Regions from separate parts of the Homo sapiens genome. Here region 1 is linked to region 2. The links come from fine-mapping of genetic effects on gene expression. Tissue or cell type: whole blood. Region 2 holds a variant in brackets; the other region holds the start of a gene. All regions are shown on one strand. Distances are from middle to middle.

The links. PIP is the estimated chance that this variant, and not a neighbour inherited with it, causes the effect.
Region 1: it holds the start of LETM2, and the variant in region 2 is fine-mapped to the expression of LETM2 in whole blood (TOPMed, PIP above 0.99).

The regions. Positions count from the first base shown.
Region 1 is chr8:38,383,734-38,391,239 of GRCh38, reverse strand. LETM2 (leucine zipper and EF-hand containing transmembrane protein 2) reads right to left here and starts at 4,764. Exons shown (of 11, transcript NM_001286819.2): 1 at 4,672-4,764; 2 at 3,210-3,290. The coding sequence starts at 3,256. RefSeq lists enhancers at 4,205-4,706, 4,828-4,907, 4,928-5,167, 4,860-5,489, 5,490-6,120 and 2 more and silencers at 4,048-4,097, 4,138-4,277.
Region 2 is chr8:38,408,168-38,418,810 of GRCh38, reverse strand. FGFR1 (fibroblast growth factor receptor 1) reads left to right here. Exons shown (of 18, transcript NM_023110.3): 10 at 438-583; 11 at 820-941; 12 at 1,395-1,505; 13 at 2,751-2,941; 14 at 3,910-4,032; 15 at 4,182-4,252; 16 at 4,522-4,659; 17 at 4,788-4,893; 18 at 5,007-7,668. The coding sequence ends at 5,183. LOC102723716 (a long non-coding RNA gene) reads left to right here and starts at 5,800. Exons shown (of 4, transcript NR_188043.1): 1 at 5,800-7,917. LETM2 (leucine zipper and EF-hand containing transmembrane protein 2) reads right to left here. Exons shown (of 11, transcript NM_001286819.2): 11 at 9,284-10,599. The coding sequence ends at 10,537. RefSeq lists enhancers at 1-648, 1,557-2,222, 2,663-3,433, 5,052-5,725, 5,726-6,398 and a silencer at 9,011-9,060. The variant C/T (reference allele first, on the strand shown) is at 5,028.

The DNA of each region.
Region 1 (7,506 bases), 26 kb after region 2:
TGTCTTTTTCCATTCTTTCAGTTTTTTGGTTTTTTTTTTTGTTTTTTTTTTTTTTTTTGAGACAGGAGGAGTCTCACTCTGTCACCCAGGCTGGAGTACAGTGGCATGATCACGGCTCACTGCAGCCATGACCTCCTAGGCTCATGTGGAAGAAATCAACACAAGTTCTCAACAGCTATAGAATTAAATGCATATGCAATATTCATTATTTTAGAACATGCCAAAAACAAAACCAAAAACAAAAGCAAAAAAAATTTGTCGCCAGGCACGCTGGCTCATGCCTGTAATCCCAGCACTTTGGGAGGCTGAGGAAGGTGGATCACGAGGTCAAGAGATCTAGACCATCCTGGCCAACATGGTGAAACCCCATCTCTACCAAAAATACAAAAATTAGCTGGGCGTGGTGGAGTGCACCTGTAGTCCCAGCTACTCGGGAGGCTGAGGCAGGAGAATTGCTTGAACCCAGGAGGCGGAGGCTGCAGTGAGCCAAGATTGCGCCACTGCACTCCAGCCTGGTGACAGAGCAAGACTCTGTCTCACAAAAAAACAAAAAACAAAAAACAAAAAAACAAAAATAAAAAATTTGTCTTGGTTCTTTTTTTTTTTTTTTTTTTTTCTGAGACAGAGTCTCACTCTGTTGCCCAGGCTGGAGTGCAGTGACGCGATCTTGACTCACTGCAACCTCCGCCTCCTGGGTTCAAATGATTCTCCTGCCTCAGCCTCCCGAGTATCTGGGAATACAGGTGCCTGCCACCACACCTGGCTAATCTTTATATTTTTAGTAGAGACGGGGTTTCACCATGTTGGCAAGACTGGTCTCGAACTGCTGACCTCAAGTGATCTGCCTGCCTTGGCCTCCCAAAGTGCTGGGATTACAGGTGTGAGCCATCACACCCGGCTCTTTTTTTTCTCTTTCTGTTTAAGACACAGAGTCTTGCTATGTTGCCCAGGCTGGCCTCAAACCCCTGGGCTAAAGCAATCTTCCTACCTCGGCCTCCCAAGGAGCTGAGATTACAGGCATATGCACCATGCCTGGCTTGGTTCTTAAGGTGTTAAAAACCGAGGCTGGAGTAGAGTGGTGTGATCACAGCTCACTGCAGCCTCGACCTCCCAGGCTCAGCATCCTGAGTAGCTAGGACTACAGGCCCGCACCACCACGCCCAGCTAGTTTTAAAAATTTTTGTAGAGATGAGGTCTTGCTATGTTATCCAGGCTGTTCTTTTTTTTTTTTTTTTTTTTTTGAGACGGAGTCTCACTCTGTTGCCCAGACTGGAGTGCAGTGGTGTGATCTCGGCTCACTGCAACCTCCACCTCCCAGGTTCAAGCGATTCTCCTGCTTTAGCCTCCTGAGTAGCTGGGACTACAGCTGCATGCCACCACGTCCAGCTAATTTTTGTATTTTTAGTAGAGACGGGGTTTCACCACATTGGCCAGGATGGTCTCGATCTCTTGACCTTGTGGTCCACCCGCCTCGGCCTCCCAAAGTGTTGGGATTACAGGCGTGAGCCACAGTGCCTGGCCCCAGGCTGTTCTTGAACTCCTGGGCTCGAGCTATCTTCCTGTCTAGGCTTCCAAAAGTACTGAGATTATAGGTGTGAGCCACTGCAGCCAGCCTCAGACTATTTTTGAAGCATGCCAAGATAAAACGCTCTTTGAATGGCCAAAAAGGGAAAAGTAAGTGCTCAGTGAATAGTCTTTAGTCTCAGTGAATAAATAAATGGTGGCCGGGCACGGTGGCTCACGCCTGTAATCCCAGCAGTTTGGGAGGCTGAGGTGGGTGGATCACTTGAGGTCAGGAGTTCAAGATCAGCCTGGCCAACATGGAGAAACACCATCTCTATAAAAATACAAAAAAATTAGCTGGGCATGGTGGCCCATGCCTGTAATCCCAGCTACTCGGGAGGCTGAGACAGGAGACTCACTTGAACCCAGGAGGCAGAGGTTGCAATGAGCCAAGATTGTGCCATTGCACTCCAGCTTGGGCAATAGAGCGAGATTTCATCTCAAAAATAAATAAATAAATAAATAAATAAATAATGGTAACAGACCCTAATGGGACACGAATATGCCCTAAGACTGGCTGTTCATCAGCCATTTTACTCGCTTTACATCTAAGGACCTCACGTGATGTTCATCAATTACAGAGATGTCACTCTAAAACCAGTACATCTTCTGGCTGGGCACAGTGGCTCACGCCTTTAATCCCAGCACTTTGGGAAGCCCAGGCTGGCGGATTACCTGAGGTCAGGAGTTCAAGACCAGCCTGGCCAACATGGCGAAACCCCATCTGTACTAAAAATACAAAAATTAGTGGGACATGGCGGCGCATGCCTGTAATCCCAGCTACTTGTGAGGCTGAGGCAGGAAAATCTCTTGAACCTGGGAGTTGGAGGTTGCAGTGAGCCAAGATATCATGCCACTGCACTCCAGCCTGGGCAACAGAGTGATAATCCGTCCCAAAAAAGAAAACAAAAACAAACAAACAAAAAAAACTACATCTTCTTTTCTTTTTTTTTTTTGAGATGGATTTTTACTCTTGTTGCCCAAGCTGGAGTGCAGTGGCCCAGTCTTGGCCCACTGCAACCTCCGCCTCCCAGGTTCAAGCGATTCTCCTGTCTCAGCCTCACAAGTGCTGGGATTATAGGTACCTGCCACCATGCCGGCTAATTTTTGCAGTTTTAGTAGAGACGGGGTTTCACCATGTTGGTCAGGCTGGTCTTGAACTCCTGACCTCAGGCAATCCGCTCGCCTTGGCCTCCCAAAGTGCTGGGATTACAGGTGTGAGCCACTGCACCCAGCCTCCAAGAAACTTTTAATTGTGTACTAAGCCAATCCTTTCCATCTAGAAGGATGAAATTCAGGCCAGGCGAGGTGACTCACGCCTGTAATCCCAGCACTTTGGGAGCCCAAGGCAGGCGGATCACCTAAGGTCAGGAGTTCCAGAGCAGCCTGGCCAACATGGTGAAACCTCGTCTCTACTGAAAATACAAAGATTAGCCGGAGGTGGTGGCAAACACCTGTAATCCCAGTTACTTGGAGGCTGAGGGAGGAGAGTAGCTTGAACCCGGGAGGCAGAGGTTGCAGTGAGCCGAGATTGCACCATTGAACTCCAGCCTGGGCGACAGAGTGCGACTCCATCTCAGAAAAAAAAAAAAAAAAGAAGAAGAAGAAGAATTACGTTCATATTGGGGGGTAACTCCAATGCTTACCTTGTTCGAGCAATAGCCAGAACTGAATTATAACTGTAGAAGGCCATATTTATTTTTGTCTCAAGTAGTTAACATAGGGACCTAGGCAAAAGGAGTAAGTAAACAATTTAGTAGTTTAAAAATACATCAATTAAAAGACATCAGGATTTTAGTGTTTTTAACTATTGCAAAGGTAGAACATTTGCATAGTTAAGGTACAAAACCTCCTTCAAGCTCATTTCCAACAATCAGATATTTTCGTAGCTCTGGACTTGAGAATGGTACTTTGAGATTCCAACAAACGGTAATGATCTCTAAGATGATGATGCTCATGAAGATGGTACAATCTTCAGAGACATTTTGATTTCTGGTCAATAGTATCTAGTAATGCAACTTCAATGATTGCCAAGTACTTAAAAGTAGAGCAATACATATCTATCTGTAGCCTTAAAATATAGGTAGAAAGTGAATATTCTGAATTTCTTTTCAGTTAGCATTGTTCTATATTTAGGCAAGTTGTCCCAAACCCTGAATATTGGACGTACCCACTAATCTAATTTATGTAGCAGTGGATGAAGGTAGACATGCAACCTACTAATCGCTCAAGTGGAGGTAAAACTGTTTCCCTTGCTACTGATTCTCCAGAGCCCAAACTGAGCTTTGAACCTGTAAATAACCTTCACCAAAACCCATCTCCATCCAGGGGCGCTTTTCTGCTAAGGGCCGCGAGGAACGGCAGAAGAGCTGACATTCCCAATGGCAGCTTTGCTCTCTTGTGGTTGGGAAAAGAGTTCCAGGAGCTCTCCTGAATAGAAACCTTAGCCACAGAGCTGACATTTTCAACAGGGGCTCGAAACCTGTGGACCCACACTAACGGTGGGTGGTGTTTCGCGGGCAGGAGACGACACCTGAGGCGGCGGTTAATCCGCTCGGGCCCGGGCGCTCCCGGGCGGCGGACACCACTCGCACTCGCATTGGCGCCGCCCCACGCCCGCTGCTCCCGGGCTCCCTCGGCTTTGCCCATCACCACACGGGAGCAAAACGCGCCCTCGGCTTCCTCGCCCGGCGGCTTCGGCGCGCCTGATGTGTGCGCGGCCTGCATGCGGCGGGGTCTGGGGGATATGCTTTGGTTTTCTGGTGCGGAGGTGGGACAGGCACGGGAACGACGACCCTCGTGGATGATCGGGGTTGTTGGAAATGAAGCCGAGGAGAAAGAAGCAGGGCCTGGGACGGAAAAAAGGACGGAGCGCGCTGTGCGGGGAAGGGGGAGGAGAGGCCGAGCTTCAGAGTTCGCGCTGTGCTGGGGAACTGGCGGGGATGAGGTCGTGGGTGGAGGAGAGCGCGGTGGGAACTGGAAGCTGTCAGAAGCCTGGATCATGCTCTGATGAGAGGAGCAGGATGCGGACCGAGCGGGATCCGGAGGAAAAAAAGGCAGCGCGGCCCACCAGGTCGCGGCCTGAGGGCTGGGCCTGCCCACCCCTACCTCCTCGGCCGGGCTCCGCGGAACGGCCGCCTAGGTCCTCCCAGCTCCTTCCCGGGACCCCCAAGCTAGAAGGGCCCGAAGCCAAGTCTCTACGGTTCCGCCTCTTTCCTCGCCCCTGACGTCACTCTGAGTGACGACATCGCCAACCAATAAGCTCTCAAGTTCTGGGGAGGGCGGGCGTCCTTCACCTTAGCAGCCCAGGAAGCCGCAAAGTCGCGTTTACATCGCCGAAGTGACTTCTTTGTGGGGCTTGGTTTAAGGCGCGTTGGTGCTGGGGGGCCCGAAGGTGACGTTTTTCTGCCAGTCCACACTCCGCAGGCAGTGGCTAACGCCCGAGGAAACCCGTGATTGAAGACTGGATTAAACAGGCTCTTTCCCTGACAGCTTAATATGTCTGATAGTCGCCATGGTAACCATTTCGGAGTCATGAATGACATCACTTTGATGTATTCTCCCTCGGACCCTGCAAATCCGGAACTGCCAGAGGGGCGCTGAGAGGATTTGATGGTGTCGCAGAAAGGGCGGGAATCGGAAGGAGCGCATTCCTCTCCCTTCCTCTCCAGAGGCTGGAATACTGTGAAATCTTCATATGGAAATCTGTATTCTACTAAAAATATTTGCTTTCTCAATGGTCCCTTAACAAGTGTTGTTTGTGATTAATAATTTGTATAGAAATCTCAGCATATAAAATGTATGTTATAGTAGCTGTGAAATGACAGACACTGCAGGTTTGAGGGCACTTCAGTTCCTAGGATGGCCAACTGAGCCATCTTGGGAAAATGAAACATCTAGAAATATTCTCATTCCCCAGTTATCTTTTCCCATCCATTTTATCTGGCTCCAGAAGAAAGAGTTAAAAATTTTTTTTATTTAGGCTGGGCGCGGTGGCTCACGCCTGTGATCCCAGCACTTTGGGAGGCCGAGGCGGGCGGATCACAAGGTCAGGAGACAGAAAACATCTTGGCCAACATGGTGAAACCCTGTCTCTACTAAAAAAAAATACAAAAATTAGCCGGGCATGGTGGCGTGCGCCTGTAGTTCCGGCTACTCTGGAGGCTGAGGCAGGAGAATCGCTTGAACCCGGGAGGCAGGGGTTGCAGTGAGTCGAGATCGCGCCACTGCACTCCAGCCTGGGCGACAAGAGCGAGATTCCACCTCAAAAAAAAATTTTTTTTTTCTTAGTGGCTCTACTCGACCACCATACAGCAAGGAATCGCTTTCTCACGGAGAATACGTCTCCTGACATGTGAGCTGACCACAGACTTTACTCATCTGGGCTACACATTTTTAAGAATGGAAGATGGCGGTATTAAACGTCAGTAAAAAATGCAGACTGCTTTTAATCCACAAAGGATTTTTCAGCTAATAACCAAATAGATCCACTGTTAAATAGGCAAAACTTTTCAGTTTGGCCACTAGAGGTCTCTTTGTGCATGTCTGATGTTCAACTTTGCACATAAAGGTTTCACTTCACGTTCTGTTTACCAGTATTAAAATCTACAAAGCTTTGGACTCTTTACTTTTCCCTCACTGAAAATTCCTGGTGGTCAAATTTTGAGCTCTAGAAGGTAGATGTAGTTTTCACACTAATTTCATAAATTAATCATTGCACTACCATGTACTGGTACTTTTCTGGAAAAGATCTTAAAGGATGCAAAAATATTTTCAGTTCCCTGGGAGACATTTTATACGGGGAAATATTCTTATTCATGCATTGTATTCACTTACAACCAGGCACAGTGAATATCATTAAGTATTCATAAACCAGATGAACGATTCCATGCCCAGTATTTGAAAGATGAGCTAGGTTTTCTACCATGGCCATATGTCAGCAATCCTATCCTAAAAAGGGAAGGGCTAAGAACTCTTCTTATTGAGATATCTGTTCAAAGTAATGTCCGTCTTCCCTAGTTATGAGACTTGGCAATTTCTTTGACTTTCAGGATAAGAGATTTATCATGTAAGATTCTGTATGTAATCTTCAGAAGAGAAATTTTTAAAAAAATATTTTTTCCTCCATGACTCTGGCCCTGAGAATTGTGTTAGATTGCTGTCTTAATGAGCTCCTTGTTCATTTTCTATGGCGAACAGTAAGCATCGTCTAAACCTCAGAAGATGTTAGATACTGAAAATGTAAACTATTATTTTTAATGGCCATTTTCCTAAATATGCCACCAGATCAAGTATACTAACTGTATTTTGTAATGTTTTGCAGGAAAAGACTATGCATCTACTTCACATAACTCCAATTTTAAACTCTTGCTGTCAGCATAGCTATTAGAAACAGGCTAATATAAGATCCCTGGGGACAATTTACTAGATTCTCCTCAAGGGAGAAACCCAGGTGCCGGGTCAAGGCAACAGTTTATCAACAAAGCAAGGAAGACACAGGAGGAAGAAAAAGAAGAATGGAGGTAGAAAGGCTCATAGAAAAAAAAAAAAGACCAATTTAATCCCTCTTTCCTGGAGATAGAATTAAGCTAGACTTGGTGGCCCGCTTTGGCCATCTGTGTTTTAAAATGTCATATCACAAATAAAAAGTATGCTTTTACTGATAGCTGTAACTTGTGGTACTACTTAAAGCATACGTTTAAAAATATTTAATGATTAATAGTAATGAGATTTTTTTTTTTTTTTTTGAGACATAGCCTCTCTGTGTCGCCCAGGCTGGAGTGCAGTGGCGCGATCTCGGCTCACTGCAAGCTCCGCTTCCCGGGTTCACGCCATTCTCCTGCCTCAGCCTCCTGAGTAGCTGGGACTACAGGCGCCCCCCACCACGCCCGGCTAATTTTTTGTATTTTTAGTAGAGACGGGGTTTCACCGTCTTAGCCAGGA
Region 2 (10,643 bases):
CCCCACGGGAGGAAATGGTACAGATGGCACAGGTGTGTGCAAGAATGACCGTTCCCTCAGAAGCCTGTGCTCATTCTGGAAGGTGCTTTGGGAGTTAGGAATCCATAAGCTAAGGCAAAGTATTTGCAAAGAGTCAGGAGAACAGAGTTGTTACTGCAATGATCAGTTATAAAATGTCAAGCTGGAAGAGGTGCATTTGGTCTGCTTATTTTAAAGGTGAGTGAAGTCCAGAAAGGCCAGCTTGTGGCAGAAATAGGTCAGTCCTAGAAGTTGGGCCTCCTGGCCTACCATGGTCTTTGGACCACTCTGTGTTGAGGAAAGAACATCAGATACACAGACATGTGCCTCTGCCATTGTTGGGAAGCCCTGACTAAGAATGGGAAGGAGTCACCCCGTCCCCCCTCCTTGCTCTAGGGTGACCCCACTCTTCCTTGCAGGTGTCTGCTGACTCCAGTGCATCCATGAACTCTGGGGTTCTTCTGGTTCGGCCATCACGGCTCTCCTCCAGTGGGACTCCCATGCTAGCAGGGGTCTCTGAGTATGAGCTTCCCGAAGACCCTCGCTGGGAGCTGCCTCGGGACAGGTAATAATACTTTGACTCCCAACTTTTTGAAGGCATTCCTTGCTTGCTATTCTAGTGGTGGAAGGTGTGTATACTAACACCTTCTGGGCGGTGAAGGTTCATGAAATGCCTGCAGAAACATTCATTCCACTTTCTGCTCGCAGTTGGGTGAAATACAGAGAGGTGGAGATGGGGTGCCTCTCAAGGTTTGAACTTCACCAGCCCCAACTTATGCCACTCTCTGTTTCCCCCGAAAGACTGGTCTTAGGCAAACCCCTGGGAGAGGGCTGCTTTGGGCAGGTGGTGTTGGCAGAGGCTATCGGGCTGGACAAGGACAAACCCAACCGTGTGACCAAAGTGGCTGTGAAGATGTTGAAGTGTAAGTGATGCTTCTGTCCTTGCAAAGAAAATCTTGTCCCATTCCAAGCAAACAGCAGGCCTCGGGCCCAGCAGAACAGCTTCTCTGGTGCCTTTGCTGCCCACACCTGCTCCGCTGCCTGCTTGGGGTTACCTGGGAGTGGAGGGGGTGTTCTGCACCTTGAGATTGTTCTATGACGTCACTCTGTTCCTTGGCGTCAACCTGGGCTGTGGTCAGGTGTTTATCCTGGATCCATCGCTTGCAGGCTTTCCTCACCACATCCCTGCCCACTCACTACCACCTATTGCAACAACGGCTCCCATGAGAGGGAAGAGAAAACAAGTTTGGATGAAGTGGGGAGGAGAGAATCAAGTCCCAGGGAAAAGCAGCCCCTCGACACATACCCCACTCCCTTAGCCTTTATCCTGCCCTCCTCCCTTCCCAAGTAAATGAGTCTCAACGTGTTCTTTAAAGCGGACGCAACAGAGAAAGACTTGTCAGACCTGATCTCAGAAATGGAGATGATGAAGATGATCGGGAAGCATAAGAATATCATCAACCTGCTGGGGGCCTGCACGCAGGATGGTGGGTGCCGGCCAGACTGGCTTTCCCTGCCCAGCGGGGAGAAGATCTGAGCTGGGGTATCAGTCCCAAGGCCTCTCTCAGCCACAGCTAGGGAAGGGGGTTAAGAGAGGCTGCTTTGGCAGAGGTTTAAAATGTGTTATCTCGGGATCTGGGCTCCGCTCATTGGTGTTCATTCAGGAATACAGATACCTAGATTCACACACGTGGTGTGTTAACAGAGGCAGCTGAGTAATTATGGTCTAAGAGCGCTCAGGCTGGGTGCAGTGGCTCATGCCTGTAATCCCAGCAATTTGGGAGGCCGAGGCAGGAAGATCACTTGAGATCAGGAGTTCGAGACCAGTCTGGTCAAAATGGTGAAACCCCATCTCTACTAAAAAATACAAAAGTTAGCCAGGCATGGTCACGCATGCCTATAATCCCAGCTACTCAGGAGGCTGACGCATAAGACTTGCTTGAACCCGGGAGGTGGAGGTTGCAGTGAGCCAAGATCACGCCATTGTACTCCAGCTTGGGAGATACTCCCGCTGTCTCAAAAATAAAATAAATAAATAGGCCAGGCACAGTGGCTCACGCCTGTAATCCCAGCACCTTGGGAGGGTGAGGCGGGTGGATCACTTGAGGTCAGGAGTTGGAGACCAGCCTGGCCAACAGGTGAAACCCCATCTCTACTAAAAATACAAAAAGTAGCCGGGCGTGGTGGCGCATGCCTGTAATTCCAGCTACTCGGGAGGCTGTGGCAGGAGAATCGTTTGAACACGGGAGGCGGAGGTTGCGGTTAGCCGAGATCGCGCCATTGCACTCCAGCTTGGGCAACGAGCAAAACTCCATCTCAAAAAAAAAAAAAAAAAAAAAAAAAATTAGCCAGGCATTGTTCATGCCTGTAATCCCAGCTGCTTGGGAGGCTGAGGCAGGAGAATCACTTGAATCCAGAAGGCAGAGGTTGCAGTGAGCCGAAATTGCGCCACTGCACTCCAGCCTGGGCAACAGAGTGAGACTCCATCTCAAAATAAACAGACAAACTGGGGCTCTTACCCCAATGTTGCTCGGGAATTTTCTGGACTATGCTGGGAGTAATTATTTCTCTGATTTTTTTTGGGTAGTAGAATGGATTTCCCAGGTCCCCTAAGAGGAGGCAGGAGATGGGAGGTTGGCCGGGGTGTGCTGCTGGGGGTGGGGTTTCTTTGAGGTGAAGCCAAACCTGCTCACCTGCTGCTGGCCCCATGGCCTCTTCTCCTGTGCCTGCAGGTCCCTTGTATGTCATCGTGGAGTATGCCTCCAAGGGCAACCTGCGGGAGTACCTGCAGGCCCGGAGGCCCCCAGGGCTGGAATACTGCTACAACCCCAGCCACAACCCAGAGGAGCAGCTCTCCTCCAAGGACCTGGTGTCCTGCGCCTACCAGGTGGCCCGAGGCATGGAGTATCTGGCCTCCAAGAAGGTGTGGAACCTGAAGGCTCCCCTGGGTAATGCCAGGGTGGGAACAGAGCCCCCCTAGTCTTCCAGCCTGTGACTTATCATCTTGTGGTGGCGTTGTGGATGCACTGAGCACTGGCCCTGTGTGCCCTGTGTGTTGTCTTAGGCTCTCTGGGAACTGCAGAGTCAGGAGCACCAGTGTAGCCAGGTGGCCTTGGGGTCAGACTGATGCAGGGTCCGATCTGTGCACTGCCACTTTCTGCGTAGCCTCAGGCAGCTACTTAGCATCTTAAAATTCTTCAAATACAAAATAATAATAATATCAGCTGGGTGCAGTGGCCAAGGCGGGAGGATTGCTTGAGCTCAGGAGTGTGAGACCAGGTTGGGCAATATATTGAAACCCCGTCTTTAAAAAAAAAAAAAAAATTAAAAAATTAGCTGGGTGTGGTAGTGCGTGCCGATAGTCCCAGCTACTCGGGAGGCTGAGGTGGGAGGCTAGCTTGAGCCCAAGAGTTTGAGGCTGCACTGAGCCATGATCACACCACTGCACCCCAGCCGGGGCGACAGAGCAAGGCCCTGTCTCAAAAGAAAATAAAGTATAACAATACCTGTTGTAGAATTGTTATGAAGATAAAATGAAACTGTCTGTGAGTGTTGAGTGCAGTGTTTGGTGTGTAAGGGCTGGCCTGGTTTGAGCCCAGCCCCATGTGGACTTGCTGTGCTGGGAGGCAGGACCTAGGAGCATGCATCGCTGCAGACGCAGCAGAGGCATAAGGGGCCAGTCTTTGGGGAAGGAAGGGAGGAGCGCTTGCTGTGATGAGAAGCCTGGAGCTGGCAGAGAATGTTAGAAGAGGGAAAGCAAAGGTTCGGGGGGCAGAGCAGTGTGGCAGAAGTTCTATGAGACAAGTCGGCTAGTTGCATGGGTGGCGGCCGCCCAGAGCCTTCCAGCTCCCTCACCTCCCCGCCTCCCGCTCTCCCTTCCTCCTTCCTCAGTGCATACACCGAGACCTGGCAGCCAGGAATGTCCTGGTGACAGAGGACAATGTGATGAAGATAGCAGACTTTGGCCTCGCACGGGACATTCACCACATCGACTACTATAAAAAGACAACCAACGTGAGTGCCGACAAGGCCGCCCTGTGCTGGTGGTTTCATCTGAGAAGCAAGGAGTGGGGTGGGCTGAGAACCCACCCCCCAGTCCCTTCCCACCTGTGCCCTCATGGCCCTGCCTGGGGCCACTCCAACCTCCCCTGTGCTGCTTTCAGGGCCGACTGCCTGTGAAGTGGATGGCACCCGAGGCATTATTTGACCGGATCTACACCCACCAGAGTGATGTGTGAGTTTGTAATAGCAATTGCCAGGGAGGTGTGGGATAGAGAGCTTCTAGCACTGTAGAGTCCTGCTTTCTCCCTGGACTGAGGAGTCCTCTTTCTGCCCCAGAGAGAAAAACAAAACATTGTCTGTGGCCATTCCCTCTGCTCCAGATGTTGAAAGGCTGATCTGTTCTCCATGCTGTCTCCTGGCACTGCCCTGGGTAGAGGATTTGTGCTGGGGGAGGGGAGGCGGAGAAGCTCTAACACCCTGTGGCTCTCCGCCCATTTGCAGGTGGTCTTTCGGGGTGCTCCTGTGGGAGATCTTCACTCTGGGCGGCTCCCCATACCCCGGTGTGCCTGTGGAGGAACTTTTCAAGCTGCTGAAGGAGGGTCACCGCATGGACAAGCCCAGTAACTGCACCAACGAGCTGTAAGCCCGAGGAGATGTCGGAGGCCCTGAGCCAGGCCTTGGGGCAAGAGTGGGCTTGAGGGGCAGGGGGCTAGACTAGAGAGTATCCATCTCCAGGAGACGTCCCTGACCTTACAGTCCTGCCGCAGGTACATGATGATGCGGGACTGCTGGCATGCAGTGCCCTCACAGAGACCCACCTTCAAGCAGCTGGTGGAAGACCTGGACCGCATCGTGGCCTTGACCTCCAACCAGGTAAGGCTGCCCGTGCCAGAGCCAGAGCTCAGGCCGTCCCCACTGCGTGCACGCACCTCCCTGAGCAGGGAGGAGGGGCCCGGCCCATCGCTGCTTCCTCTCGCCCATCACAGGAGTACCTGGACCTGTCCATG[C/T]CCCTGGACCAGTACTCCCCCAGCTTTCCCGACACCCGGAGCTCTACGTGCTCCTCAGGGGAGGATTCCGTCTTCTCTCATGAGCCGCTGCCCGAGGAGCCCTGCCTGCCCCGACACCCAGCCCAGCTTGCCAATGGCGGACTCAAACGCCGCTGACTGCCACCCACACGCCCTCCCCAGACTCCACCGTCAGCTGTAACCCTCACCCACAGCCCCTGCTGGGCCCACCACCTGTCCGTCCCTGTCCCCTTTCCTGCTGGCAGGAGCCGGCTGCCTACCAGGGGCCTTCCTGTGTGGCCTGCCTTCACCCCACTCAGCTCACCTCTCCCTCCACCTCCTCTCCACCTGCTGGTGAGAGGTGCAAAGAGGCAGATCTTTGCTGCCAGCCACTTCATCCCCTCCCAGATGTTGGACCAACACCCCTCCCTGCCACCAGGCACTGCCTGGAGGGCAGGGAGTGGGAGCCAATGAACAGGCATGCAAGTGAGAGCTTCCTGAGCTTTCTCCTGTCGGTTTGGTCTGTTTTGCCTTCACCCATAAGCCCCTCGCACTCTGGTGGCAGGTGCCTTGTCCTCAGGGCTACAGCAGTAGGGAGGTCAGTGCTTCGTGCCTCGATTGAAGGTGACCTCTGCCCCAGATAGGTGGTGCCAGTGGCTTATTAATTCCGATACTAGTTTGCTTTGCTGACCAAATGCCTGGTACCAGAGGATGGTGAGGCGAAGGCCAGGTTGGGGGCAGTGTTGTGGCCCTGGGGCCCAGCCCCAAACTGGGGGCTCTGTATATAGCTATGAAGAAAACACAAAGTGTATAAATCTGAGTATATATTTACATGTCTTTTTAAAAGGGTCGTTACCAGAGATTTACCCATCGGGTAAGATGCTCCTGGTGGCTGGGAGGCATCAGTTGCTATATATTAAAAACAAAAAAGAAAAAAAAGGAAAATGTTTTTAAAAAGGTCATATATTTTTTGCTACTTTTGCTGTTTTATTTTTTTAAATTATGTTCTAAACCTATTTTCAGTTTAGGTCCCTCAATAAAAATTGCTGCTGCTTCATTTATCTATGGGCTGTATGAAAAGGGTGGGAATGTCCACTGGAAAGAAGGGACACCCACGGGCCCTGGGGCTAGGTCTGTCCCGAGGGCACCGCATGCTCCCGGCGCAGGTTCCTTGTAACCTCTTCTTCCTAGGTCCTGCACCCAGACCTCACGACGCACCTCCTGCCTCTCCGCTGCTTTTGGAAAGTCAGAAAAAGAAGATGTCTGCTTCGAGGGCAGGAACCCCATCCATGCAGTAGAGGCGCTGGGCAGAGAGTCAAGGCCCAGCAGCCATCGACCATGGATGGTTTCCTCCAAGGAAACCGGTGGGGTTGGGCTGGGGAGGGGGCACCTACCTAGGAATAGCCACGGGGTAGAGCTACAGTGATTAAGAGGAAAGCAAGGGCGCGGTTGCTCACGCCTGTAATCCCAGCACTTTGGGACACCGAGGTGGGCAGATCACTTCAGGTCAGGAGTTTGAGACCAGCCTGGCCAACTTAGTGAAACCCCATCTCTACTAAAAATGCAAAAATTATCCAGGCATGGTGGCACACGCCTGTAATCCCAGCTCCACAGGAGGCTGAGGCAGAATCCCTTGAAGCTGGGAGGCGGAGGTTGCAGTGAGCCGAGATTGCGCCATTGCACTCCAGCCTGGGCAACAGAGAAAACAAAAAGGAAAACAAATGATGAAGGTCTGCAGAAACTGAAACCCAGACATGTGTCTGCCCCCTCTATGTGGGCATGGTTTTGCCAGTGCTTCTAAGTGCAGGAGAACATGTCACCTGAGGCTAGTTTTGCATTCAGGTCCCTGGCTTCGTTTCTTGTTGGTATGCCTCCCCAGATCGTCCTTCCTGTATCCATGTGACCAGACTGTATTTGTTGGGACTGTCGCAGATCTTGGCTTCTTACAGTTCTTCCTGTCCAAACTCCATCCTGTCCCTCAGGAACGGGGGGAAAATTCTCCGAATGTTTTTGGTTTTTTGGCTGCTTGGAATTTACTTCTGCCACCTGCTGGTCATCACTGTCCTCACTAAGTGGATTCTGGCTCCCCCGTACCTCATGGCTCAAACTACCACTCCTCAGTCGCTATATTAAAGCTTATATTTTGCTGGATTACTGCTAAATACAAAAGAAAGTTCAATATGTTTTCATTTCTGTAGGGAAAATGGGATTGCTGCTTTAAATTTCTGAGCTAGGGATTTTTTGGCAGCTGCAGTGTTGGCGACTATTGTAAAATTCTCTTTGTTTCTCTCTGTAAATAGCACCTGCTAACATTACAATTTGTATTTATGTTTAAAGAAGGCATCATTTGGTGAACAGAACTAGGAAATGAATTTTTAGCTCTTAAAAGCATTTGCTTTGAGACCGCACAGGAGTGTCTTTCCTTGTAAAACAGTGATGATAATTTCTGCCTTGGCCCTACCTTGAAGCAATGTTGTGTGAAGGGATGAAGAATCTAAAAGTCTTCATAAGTCCTTGGGAGAGGTGCTAGAAAAATATAAGGCACTATCATAATTACAGTGATGTCCTTGCTGTTACTACTCAAATCACCCACAAATTTCCCCAAAGACTGCGCTAGCTGTCAAATAAAAGACAGTGAAATTGACCTGAGAGAAAATGAAATGGCCGTTTTACTTAGAGGACCAAATTGGGTCTCCTGAGGAAAGGAATCCAGTTTATCTAATGAAGATGTTGTGCCATGAAGGCACTGAGTCTGTCTGGTTTCCTGAGGGTTAAAAGATTAGGGCTGGGATCACCACAGCATTAATCAATACTGCCTTTCCGTCTCTTCTAATTGCCATAGGCTGGAGATCATCGGTCCCTTGGCCCTGCTAATGTAATGTATTGATCTCAGGTAAGTAAGATTGAGCATCAAATGAGGCAAGAAATCTGTCTCATTGTTAATGAGGTTGCTGTGCTTATTCGCCACCACTGGGTGGAGCCAGCGAGCTGAAGTTTCAGTTGGCATTAGGTGAAGCACCAGTCCGCTCTCAAGTCACATTGGTCCAACTACTACCTGCTAGTGTGTGCTGGTGGTGAGTGGGAAATCTTTAGCCTAGATTTGGCATTACAGAAAAACTGGGCAGCACTGATGTGGCTCGTTTTGGGATGATTTTAGAATTAGACATGACACAGGTGCAAGGCCCTAAGTGTCAGTGGCCACCACCTCTCTATTGTAGCAGAATTGTGTGTAAGACCCAGGACACATCTAGCATCACTGTAGTTGGGTTTTTAGAGAATGCCTAAAGTGGCCAGGCATGGTGGCGCATGTCTGTAATCCCAGCACTTTGGGAGGCTGAGGCAGGCAGATCACCTGAGGTCGGGAGTTCAAGACCAGCCTGGCCAACATGGTGAAACCCCATCTCTACAAAAATACAAAAATTAGCCAGGCGTGGTGGTGCATGCCTTTAATCCCAGCTACTCCAGAGACTGCGGCAGGAGAATCGCTTGAACCCAGGAGGCAGACGTTGCAGTGACAAGATCGTGCCACTGCACTCCAGCCTGGGTGACAGCAAGACTGTCTCAAAAGAAAAAAAAAAAAAAAAAAAAAAATCTAAAGTCATACCCAATGAGATCATTAGTGGCAGGTAGAGCCAAGGCATCTGCATCTATAGAGAAGGGAGCAGAGAGGAGAAAGCTCTGAAACAGCTGGCACAGCCTTCCATTCCCTCCACTGAGGAGAGCCAGGGAAGAAGGTGGTCAGTAAGAACCCAACTGCTAAGACTTGGTCTGGGCGGGTTCCTTCTAGGTGGACCGTCAACAGTATTCAGGACCATTTCCACCATACTGCCCTACATGCAGGTCTTCGCGTGCAGAAGGGATCTATTTCATAAACATGCTAACTAGAGGTGTAACTTTCATTACCCCGGGAGGCTCAAAGAGTTGGTGGTTAACGATTTACCAGAACACCACTAGCTGGGGCTAGATGTAAGGATCACTGAACCCAACAGCCAAGCACCCTAAATGATGAGAACAACAAAACATCCTTGACTTCTCTGAGCTGCTAGCAGAAGAGTGGGAGGAGAGGTCTATCAAGTGGCCCGGGTCCCTTGACCAGGTCACTGCTCATTCCCACCCTGCTCGGAGGGAAAGCCAGAAGGAACTGTAGGACAGCCCAGCAGTACCTATGACTCATTCAGCTAAAACAGAATTGAGCAAGTTTAGCTAATCCCTTTCCCACATTTAACACCTGAAATGTGGACTAATTAAAATACCCGTCATTTTTGAAATGGGAAAGTGTATTGTGAATCACCTCGATAGGCAGGATCCATGATTGCTGTATGTGCACAGTAGGGATTCATCATTCCCAAAGAACTGGGCTTCATTAGTGGGACATGGTGGGGCTTCTCTGATGGAGCACAAATTTAGAAAGCATTGTAGAATGCATATTCTTGCTGTGAAGTGCTGGTGACATTCCTCATTTAGGTGATCCCAGACAGGACAGTGGAGTTTTACTTGTTTTAACTGACTGCTGTCTAACCACAGCAAGTAAAGAAATCTAATTTTATCACCTACAGGCTGAAATACCTTTGGCCTTCTAACCACTCCCCAGGGGAAGAAAGCCCTTGGTCAGCTGCATGGCAGTCTATCTATTATTTCATATTATTAATACTGAAAACACCAAGCATAAATATCCTAATGTAATACTTGTTGCTGGGTAGCACAGGGATTATATCAGACTTTCACAATCCCTATGACTAATAGTCTTATTTGTGAAAGACAAACTGGCCAGAAACACACACACCCAACACAAACATGGTTAAGGCTTAAACCCTTAATTATGCTTCCTAGCAAAATGGTGGCTAATGAAAGCCATATGTGCTAGAAGAGTGGCTGCCTCGCAGATTGCGGCTGCCTCACAGATTGCTGCAGCCTCTGCAGGCCCAAGATGGAGGTGTCGGAAGCAGCCAAATCTTTCTGATTGCCAGTCTGTTTCTCCAGGAAGCTTCATTATATCCAGAAAGATCTTACTGGGGAGTATATCCATCCCATCTCATAAGGTACTTTGTTTCCAGGGTGCTGATCCTACTGGTGGATCATTCAGAAAGTTAATCAGGTGCTCCTAAAATGGTTTTTGGAACTTCCAAGTTCTTACTCAGAATTCCAAGCCATAGGAGACAGGTATCTAAGGTGCCAAGCTGATTCCATTGTGCAAAAAATTTCCTCTCTGAAGGGACGTACACATGAAACTAAAAAAACAACATGATGGGGGGTGGGCTTTATACAAAGTTGAGTGGGGTGACAATGGTACAGAGGAAATGGGACTTTGCAATTATATTTTTCTAAGTGGTCTGAACTTGGTCTCACTACCCACATCACCTGGAATGGTTACCAGGCCTCAAAGGACTGCCCCACGGGCTAAACAGCTGATCCGCTCTCTGAAGCCAGACAGTCTTATCTGGGAGGTCCTTTACAGATGCCACTGTTGAGGGCCGGAAGCTGAAGAGAGTGAGCTCCATCCTCAAGTAGTCCTTTATGCTCCTTTTGAACTAGCCTTGCTGTTCTGGGCCGTCATTTGTGATTTGGCCTGGAGTGTCTAGGCGTAAAAAACAAGGACTGTAGGCATTAGTCACAGACGTG